Homo sapiens: one gene and its partner. The protein of the gene in region 1 interacts with the protein of each later gene in a pairwise test. Each region holds a gene or a part of one and is shown in the gene's direction. Other genes may lie near its edges.

Region 1 (5,579 bases):
CCTGACTTGCGCTGCTCTGCAGGCATCACAGAGATGCAGCAGGTGGAGGCCTTCCTGCGAGAGGGGCTGCTCATGCGTGGCCTGAACCACCCGAATGTGCTGGCTCTCATTGGTATCATGTTGCCACCTGAGGGCCTGCCCCATGTGCTGCTGCCCTATATGTGCCACGGTGACCTGCTCCAGTTCATCCGCTCACCTCAGCGGGTCAGTGTTCATCTGGCTCTGGGTTGGGGGCTGGGCAGCAGCTGGAGAAGGAGCTGCTGTGCCCTTGCCCACCAACCCACCTGTGCCCCCAGAACCCCACCGTGAAGGACCTCATCAGCTTTGGCCTGCAGGTAGCCCGCGGCATGGAGTACCTGGCAGAGCAGAAGTTTGTGCACAGGGACCTGGCTGCGCGGAACTGCATGTGAGAGTCCAGAGTAGCTGGGGTGAAGCAAAAGGACAGGGCATGAGGGTGTGCGGTGCTCAAGGCCGCCTCAGGGAAGGGCCCACTCCAGCCTTGTCCTCCCCTCTCTGCACCTTACTTTTTTTGTCTGCCCAGTGCAGACTTGGACTGGACACTGTGGCTTTGAAATTTGGCCAGGCGCGGTGGCTCACGTCTGTAATCCCAGCACTTTGGGAGGCTGAGGAAGGCGGATCATGAGGTCAGGAGATCGAGACCATCCTGGCTAACACGGTGAAACCCCGTCTCTACTAAAAATACAAAAAGATTAGCCAGGCGTGGTGGCGGGCCCCTGTAGTCCCAGCTACTCAGGAGGCTGAGGCGGGAGAATGGCGTGACCCCAGGAGGCAGAGCTTGCAGTGAGCGGAGATCGCGCCACTGCACTCCAGCCTGGGTGACAGAGCGAGACTCCGTCTCAAAAAAAAAAAAAATTCTGTAAGGGCCTAGAACAGGTGGGTTCAGGGCCTGGTAAGGGCCAGTCCTAAGTGTGATCCTCTCCCTACCCCTAAGGCTGGACGAGTCATTCACAGTCAAGGTGGCTGACTTTGGTTTGGCCCGCGACATCCTGGACAGGGAGTACTATAGTGTTCAACAGCATCGCCACGCTCGCCTACCTGTGAAGTGGATGGCGCTGGAGAGCCTGCAGACCTATAGATTTACCACCAAGTCTGATGTGGTGAGGCCCCACCTGCCCTACAGTCCACATGGCTTTGGCACCCAAGAACACTGGGCCTCACCCATTCAGCTCTGAATGATCTGAGCCCAGGGAGTCCCCAGGGTAGATGACCCCCACAGCCCATCTGCTCACCTCTTGGGCAGATGTAAGATGGAATCTGACACCTGCCAGGGCTAGAGGAGGCTGGGAACTCACTGGCTCCTCACAGATAATCCAGGGCCTGCCCAGCCCCAACTCTGGGTAGGATGAGGTAGTGGGAGGAGACAGAGGAAAGACACAGGTGATGTATTGAGGAATGAGCTCTCAGTGGAGGGTAGGGTCTTCCATTTCCAGCTGAAGGACTCTGGGAGGTAGAAGCCCTGGGGGACCCACCTGCCCCCAAATTTGGGGTGAGTTGAGTCCCCTCACCTCCCCCTTTCCACAGTGGTCATTTGGTGTGCTGCTGTGGGAACTGCTGACACGGGGTGCCCCACCATACCGCCACATTGACCCTTTTGACCTTACCCACTTCCTGGCCCAGGGTCGGCGCCTGCCCCAGCCTGAGTATTGCCCTGATTCTCTGTGAGTATGTGGAGGTGGTAGTGGGGAGGGAACTGGGCCCCAGAGACATGGAAGAGACAGGAGACAGAGCTCCTGCCTGGCTTCCTGACTGAACTTCTGGTTGACTAGGAAAGGGACTCTCGCTGGGCCTCAATTTCCTCATCTGTGAACTGGTCCCACCCTCATGCAGAGTAGGACCCTGGGAGGACCTCACAGTTGCCATGGTAACAGCATTCTGAGCTCAGAGTTGGGGTTGAGGCCCGTGGTTTGATTTTCCCAGTGCTCCTCCTACCCGACTCCCACTAACGGGGTCTGCTTTCCACCTTTTCCTCTCATTTAATCTCGAGGAAAGATTCCATAACCCCCACAGCAACCCCCTCTGGATCTCCAGGTCAGGTTTTTTCACTGTATGTGGTTTCAGATTCCCCATTCCTGGAGGGATGGCGGCAGCTGCATTGTCCTCAGTGCCTACGGGGTGGGTTCGGTGCTGAGGTTCAGCTTCATACGTAGCAGGTGTGCCTGAGCTGTGGCTAGGTCTGCTGGGTTAGAACAGAGAGAACCAGGACATAGGTAAAAGTAGTTAACGCCTCCTGTCTCAGGCTGTGCTCCAAGAAGGATGCGAGTAGCCCTTCCTCACAGTCCTACCTGCCTTGGGTTTGCTCTTACTATTCACTTCTTTAATTCACTGCCTACCCATATCCAGATTGGGCTCCTGGAAACAGACTCAGCTGGAGATTTATGTACGGGGATTTACTGAGAGGTTGGGGGCAAGGGAAGAAGGACTGGGCAGGAGAAATGTCACAGAAACTGCAGCCCATCCCACAGGGACTGCTTGAACTGGGATGACCCACCACAGTTTTCTGAAATTGAGACCAACAGGCCAGGTCTTTGTACCAGGCATTAATCAGTTACTAGTCACAGGCTGTCCCTGGTGAGGGGATGTGAGCTTGGCAGAGGCAGTTCTCTTCTGCCTAGGGCAATTCCTAGAGAGAGCCTCAGTCAAGAACCATCAGCAGGCAACACTCCTAGCCACTGGGAAAGTAAAGGGGTATCTGGGTGGCACACCATAGGGTCCACTTCAGCAGTCCAGCCCTTCTCCTCTCTGGGCCTCAATTTCCTCATCTGTAAAGTGGAGACAACAGTACCACCTTCCGAGAGTCTGAGAATTATATGAGATATTGTGTGTAGGGTAGAGTATTATTTCAGGCAGGAATGACATCCCCAAGATAATGGGGCAGGCACTAGGACCCAGCAGGTAAACCTGGGGAACCTCTGCTTCAGGACCAGGGTGCCACTGGTGCTGCCCCAAATGCTCTTGCTTCAGAATTTTTTTTTTTTTTTTTGAGACAGAGTCTCACTCTGATGCCCAGGCTGGAGTGCGGTGGCGCAATGTTGGCTCACTGCAACCTCTGCCTCCCAGGTTCAAGTGATTCTCCTACCTCAGCCTCCTGAGTAACTGGGACTACAGGCGTGTGCCACCACGCCCAGTAATTTTTTTTTTTTTTTTTTGAGATGGAGTCTCGCTCTGTTGCCCAGGCTGGAGTGCAGTGGTGCAATCTCGGCTCACTGCAAGCTCCGCCTCCCGGGTTCACGCCATTCTCCTGCCTCAGCCTCCCGAGTAGCTGGGACTACAGGCGCCTGCCACGACGCCCGGCTAATATTTTGTGTTTTTAGTAGAGACGGGGTTTCACTGTGTTAGCCAGGATGGTCTCGATCTCCTGACCTCGTGATCCACCCACCTTGGCCTCCCAAAGTGCTGGGATTACAGGCGTGAGCCACCACGCCCAGCTTTGCCCAGTTAATTTTTGTATTTTTAGTAGAGATGGGGTTTCACTATGTTGGCCAGGCTGGTCTCGAACTCCTGACCTCGTGACCTGCCCACCTCAGCCTCCCAAAGTGCTGGGATTACAGGCATGAGCCACTGCCCCCGGCCACTTCAGGATTTTTAATTCCTGCTTTGCTGGACCCAGGCTTCCTTCCTGGAAGAACTGTGATGATGACCATTGTACCTCGTGAGCTGGGCCTTGTGCCTAGCACTTCACAGGCATCAGCCTATATGCCTACTTCTCTGTGATCAGAGGAGGACCCAGAGGCACAGAGAAGTTAAGGAACTTATCCAAGATCACATAGCCCAGGCCACAGGGCACAGGAGCCCAAGCTCTTAACACCTGAGGTAGTTCGACCTCTGCCAGGGTGGGAAGGCAGGACTGGAACAGTAATCATAGGGATGAGAAGAGCTGCCCCTGATTGGGTAGTGCTAGGTACTAGGTCCTGTCATCTATCCTCATCCCTGTGTGGCCTGCCAGAGGTTTAACAGCAAGTGGGTGGCCCAGAATCCTTGGGTGGAAATTGCCTTAACCTGACATCCCTTTCCCCCAACAGGTACCAAGTGATGCAGCAATGCTGGGAGGCAGACCCAGCAGTGCGACCCACCTTCAGAGTACTAGTGGGGGAGGTGGAGCAGATAGTGTCTGCACTGCTTGGGGACCATTATGTGCAGCTGCCAGCAACCTACATGAACTTGGGCCCCAGCACCTCGCATGAGATGAATGTGCGTCCAGAACAGCCGCAGTTCTCACCCATGCCAGGGAATGTACGCCGGCCCCGGCCACTCTCAGAGCCTCCTCGGCCCACTTGACTTAGTTCTTGGGCTGGACCTGCTTAGCTGCCTTGAGCTAACCCCAAGCTGCCTCTGGGCCATGCCAGGCCAGAGGGCAGTGGCCCTCCACCTTGTTCCTGCCCTTTAACTTTCAGAGGCAATAGGTAAATGGGGCCCATTAGGTCCCTCACTCCACAGAGTGAGCCAGTGAGGGCAGTCCTGCAACATGTATTTATGGAGTGCCTGCTGTGGACCCTGTCTTCTGGGCACAGTGGACTCAGCAGTGACCACACCAACACTGACCCTTGAACCAATAAAGGAACAAATGACTATTAAAGCACAAATTGTAGCAAACAGTGTGAAAGAATGACAGGAGGCTGCTATAAATAGCTGAATAGAGAGGCAAGGGAAGCCTCCCAGGAGGTGACATTTTGCTGAGGCCTTATCAACCGGGGAAAAACCACCAGAAACAGTGTTGAGGAAAGAGGGTTTTTGGCAGAGAGTCACACATGCAAAGACCCTGAGGCTGGAAAGGAGTTGGATCAGCAAGAAGGATTTTGAGAACAGGGAGGGTGAGCAAGGCCCAGATCCAGGTCCTAGGGCTCTGGGGACTGTTAGATGGAACCAAGGAAGTAGGCTGAGTACCCAAGCATGCAGTGACCAGGATGGTTTCTTCCATGGCTCAGGCTGCCTCCTCCCCTTTCCCCAGCCCTAGCACTTCTCCAGGGCTCCCTGCTCGATCTGCAGTGCCCACCGTCACACCATCCAGGATGGAATGGGGCCTGCCATCTGGGGCATAGAGGCTTGGGTCCCAGCAACACTGCCAGCATTGATTGCGCTTGTAGCCTTAAGAGAGATAAGCCAGCAGCAAGGCCTCAACTCCACACTTTCTTTTTTTTTTTTTGAGACGGAGTCTCGCTCTGTCGCCCAGGCCGGACTGCGGACTGCAGTGGCGCAATCTCGGCTCACTGCAAGCTCCGCTTCCCGGGTTCACGCCATTCTCCTGCCTCAGCCTCCCGAGTAGCTGGGACTACAGGCGCCCGCCACCGCGCCCGGCTAATTTTTTGTATTTTTAGTAGAGACGGGGTTTCACCTTGTTAGCCAGGATGGTCTCGATCTCCTGACCTCATGATCCACCCGCCTCGGCCTCCCAAAGTGCTGGGATTACAGGCGTGAGCCACCGCACCCGGCCTAACTCCACACTTTCAAGGAGCCAACTTCTGGCCAGGTGCGGTGGCTCATGCCTGTAATCCCAGCACTTTGGGAGGCTGAGGCAGGCGGATCACTTGAGGTCAGCAGTTTGAGACCAGCCTGACCAAGAT
Region 2 (4,539 bases), on another chromosome or scaffold:
TGTAAATAGCTGAAATTTGCAAGAAAAACAAAATAAAGTACAGACGCTTGCATGATTTGGGAAGTAAAAGATAAAAATAGTAGGAGATTGGAGAAGAATTCTTGTAAAAAGAGGTAAGTAATTTTCTAAGGACAGCACTTGTTACCACAAGCATTTCCAGTGAAAATCTGGGGTACCATTGCTAGGGACTATGTTATAAAACAGATCTCATGTTTGCTTTTCTAACTGGTATTTGACCTAGTAATATTCTTTTTGATTCATATGTATTATCTGTTTCCTCCTGTGGCCAGTAGCAAACAGGAGAAGCCATTATTCAATGCAATGAATATTTATCTAACAGAAGAAATAAAGATGAATGTATTTGTTACTAAATAAATTCAATTGCTCTAACAAAGATACTTAAAATAATAGCAGGTAAAACAATAGAATATTGTTTTTCTCTCTAAAAATCAGAGTGGGAACTGTGAGGTTGGTATGGTAGTTTCACTTTCATCAGGGATCAGAATATTTTGTCTTAGTGCTCTACCATCTTTGACACATGGTTTCTACCTCATGCTCCTACCAGACTCTCTGCATTTCAGCCAGCACAAAAGAGGAAATGTAGAAAGGAAGGCCATATCACATCTCTGCTAACATCTGTTTACTCACATTCCAATAGCTATAACTTGATCAAATGGCAATGCTTAGTTGCAGGGAAGACTGAGAGAAATGTAGTCTCTATCTAGATGGCCATATTACTTACACAAGTAAGGAGACGATGGATATTGTTTGGACTACTGAAAGTTGCTACCACAATAAGTACACTCAGATTTCTTACCTCAGAGAGCTTAAATACTCTGTAAGCGTGAAGAAAACTGTTCATTGTAATACAAGCAATAAGTATGAAATAAGAATTGTAGGAAATGCTTATATTTAAGGAAAGCTTAAATATGATAAAAATATTTATAATTTCAGCAGCAGATAGGACATCCAGGAATAGAAGCCCAAGTAGGTATTGAAACTATGGGTGTAGATAAAGGAGGAAATTTCTTAGTAAAAGTGGCATCAGAATATCTGAAAAATAGAACTTTTTCAAAGTACGCCCACTTTTATCCACCTAAAGTCTTTGAGAGGCCTTCATACCACCAGGTGTATACTATTTGTTGAGGATCATGAAGCAGACAAAGAAATATGGAGACTAACCTAAATCCTTCACAAGTCTTAAAGCCTCTCAAGAAAGGGTAATCCTCTTCATCAGATATATCTACCTCTCTTACTGAATAGGGTCTTTGATATTGTTTCTGCTTCTTCCCTCTTTCAGGGTGCTTTTCAGGAAACAATGATCATTTTTTGGCAATTAATCAGAAGAAGAGTGGGAAGCCGGTATTCATTTATAAGCATTCACAAGACATTGAGAAGAGCCTGGATATAGCCCCACAAAAAATCTACAGACATAGCTACCATTCCTCTTCCGAAGCTCAAGTAAGCAAACGCCACCAGATTGTCAATTCAGCATTTCCTAGACCCGCATATGACCCGTCTCTCAATCTGCTGGCCATGGATGGTCAAGATCTTGAAGTGGAAAATCTCCCAATCCCAGCAGCAAATGTAATTGTGGTGGTAAGTAGTATGTTAAACTGATGCTGAGGCTGATGTTGATTCTTTCCTGTCATTGATGCTTGAAAAAAGAAAAACACTGATTGTGAATAGTTATCAATGAATCCCAACGGGTATGTACCACAGCACTTATTCTGTGGTACTTCTAATTTCTTACTTGACTGTTGTCTGTTTTCTTCCTCTTACGAAATCAGAAAACTTGTCTGTATCCTCCGCTCATAGCAGAATGCATGGTACATGGTAGATGCTTAATAAATATTTGAATAAAAGATTACTTTAGGAAGGCCTTACAATTATAGTTGATTATATCTTGTACTGAGCCTCCTACCTTCTGTGAGAATCTGTTTTAAGCAGATAGGCCTTAGTCTCAGCCTGTGTAAATAAATAATACTTATTGAAGATCCTCTGGTCACTTGACTCAAATTACAATAAATAAGACAACTGAAAGGGGAGGTGTGGTAGAGGGAGAGTAGTTTTCTGTCACTGGAGCAAATAAAATGAGTTGGGAGTAATTGATAGATAACATTTTTGATATTACTGAATAATAACCATTCTTTATTAATAAAAGTGATACAATGATCCCATTGCTTATGTTCTTAAAGTTCCCTTGCTTGTATAACCCAGGTCAGAGGTTTCCAAATTGTGGAGGTTATCATAGTTTAAATACATACTGAGGTTGACACCCTATTTGAACTACAGTCACTCTCTGGTTTAACATCATTATAGAAGGATCCACATTGAAACTACAAATCAGTAGTTAAATGGTTGTTATTGCATCTCTGCTCCAAAATATAATCAAATGAGTTGATTTGTGTGGCCAAGATAATTCAATGAAACCATGTTTGCATTTTGGCAACTCCTCTATGCACCAAATGTAATTAAATCTAACAAGCTTCTTTTTTTTCTTTATTTTTTTAACCTACTACATATAGTATACTTTACTTAATATTGAGAATCAAAGTTCCATTCGTCAATGTTTTCAGCTAGCATACACTCAGTATTTATTATGATCTAGTTTCCCCTTGGGATATCTGGAAACAGAGACAAATGAAATACAGTCTCTTGTTTTGCTTGGAAAATGTCCAGAGGGAAATATCAATAATTCAATAAAAATCATAAGCTAAGAACACAAGATGAACTCTTGTTAAGAGAAAATATGTGGGTCACTTGGCATCCTGAAATACTTGAACAAGTTTTCTGCATTTACATGAGTAGCAGATGTTCTGAAGGTGAAAGTCATGTACTCTGTCTATTCAGTGAAGATAAATGATGTTAATGATGTCTCTGTATCTGGAGATGCTCCTGTTAATGCTAGGGCTCATGGGAGATATTTCCTTAGTGACCATCATATACCCATAGTCATCAACTCTTAAAGTCACTGTGAATTACAGTTCAAGAGGCTTGTTCTATCTTGTAATGTCATGTACTGTCTAGTTAATTTAATATCATGGACAATAAAAGGCACCAATGAGGAATTCTGGCAGGTCATTTCACTTTCAGCTTATTTGTGGTTTGGAGATTGATGAAGAAGCTGTGCTTTTCCTTTGGGGTGATGATTACATAGAGGCAATAGGCAATTTTGCTGCATTAGCTTTCCCTAGCCTCTGACCATGCTGTGGCTTTGGTAGCTGGCAACACCAATTGCCAGTCCTAATGTTTCCTGCAATCCACTTAGATTACTTATGTGCATGATGATTTAGCAGCAAAACTGGGGAGGCAGGGTTATTTTTTAAATAAATCAATAATGTTTAGCTTCCTCAAAAAGCAAAGGGGTGATGCAATTAAATGTCAGCTGATTTGAAGACCCATTCCATACAGAAAATGGATGTATGGATGGGGCATACAGGAAGCAAGGGATATATTCTGGGGCAGCATAATGACTTTAATGGAATAATTGATGTGTGTTTGTGCTTATCATATGTACATGAGTATAAAACATATACATCAATGCAGACCTTCTTGTTTGAGGGATATTGCAGTGGTACTAAGAATTATTTTGAGACTTAATTTATACTCAAATAGACCATGTTCTGACTATCAGTGTCTTGAACTGGAGAAATTATAGGCATTTTTTTTCCAGCCAGGGTAAAAAGCTACACTCAACCTCTAAACTTTATATGTAACTTCTAAGACTTCCTAGCTCAGAAGGAAGGATCAAGCATTTTTCCTCCAATACTTTTTTCTTTCTTGTTTCAACTATCATTGGCAATGAGTTTTAGAATGCTACCTTTAAAAAGGGCATGAAAGTTGTGTCTCTCCTCCCTTCCTGATTCCCAATTGCCACCGCAAAGCATTTCATAAGAGCATTTATCCACAAATGAATTTTTTCCCTCTTTCTTCTTTTTATTAGTAATCAGGAAAATTTATAGTTTATTTGTTACAAGGAGAGTACAACACAATTAGAATGTTTATCCCAAATAATGCTAACTATGTTCCGGAACTCAATTAAGAAGCTGTTATTAGGATTTCTGTGCAAGTACAATGTAGAGAAGATATTGAATGCCTCAAGGTCAGTACTATGGTAAGAGGAAAAAAATACCGCTTTAGATGAAAGTATGCTGTAAAATCCATAGCTCTTGTCACTGGATCCTCAGGATATTTGTCAAGACACAAGGCCACAACACCAGGAAGGAGGGAACCCAGAGGTGCAAGTGAAAATGGTGGAATGGTAGCAACTACAGGCCATTTCAGTTCAGCATAGGCTGCTGAGTGAAGAATGTTCTAGCCTGGACAGAAATCTGAGCAAACTGAGGATTAGTAAGGCTTGGGAATATAAGGGGTGGTTTTTGACATCAGTGAAACGGCATGGAAATGGGAAGATTATGATTTACTCTGTGAGATGGACTCATGGGTAAGAAAAATAAAGGAAAGGAGAAGATGGAGGAGAAGAAACAGGAAGAAGAGCAGCAGGAGAAGGAAAGGAGGCAAGGAAAGAAGGGAAAA

Evidence for each region. The genes of interacting proteins can lie anywhere in the genome.
Region 2: the proteins of MST1R (region 1) and PTPRR interact in a two-hybrid assay, tested with the Homo sapiens proteins (one study listed by BioGRID).

What each region holds. Positions count from the first base shown.
Region 1 is NC_000003.12:49,886,024-49,891,602, reverse strand, and holds the end of MST1R (macrophage-stimulating protein receptor isoform 1 preproprotein), read left to right. Parts: intron 1-22; coding exon 23-204; intron 205-296; coding exon 297-406; intron 407-952; coding exon 953-1,118; intron 1,119-1,542; coding exon 1,543-1,679; intron 1,680-1,787; exon of another isoform or gene 1,788-1,882; intron 1,883-4,040; coding exon 4,041-4,296; 3' UTR 4,297-4,601; downstream 4,602-5,579. UniProt on the Homo sapiens protein: Receptor tyrosine kinase that transduces signals from the extracellular matrix into the cytoplasm by binding to MST1 ligand. Regulates many physiological processes including cell survival, migration and differentiation.
Region 2 is NC_000012.12:70,889,739-70,894,277, reverse strand, and holds part of PTPRR (receptor-type tyrosine-protein phosphatase R isoform 1 precursor), read left to right. Parts: intron 1-1,300; coding exon 1,301-1,599; intron 1,600-4,539. UniProt on the Homo sapiens protein: Sequesters mitogen-activated protein kinases (MAPKs) such as MAPK1, MAPK3 and MAPK14 in the cytoplasm in an inactive form.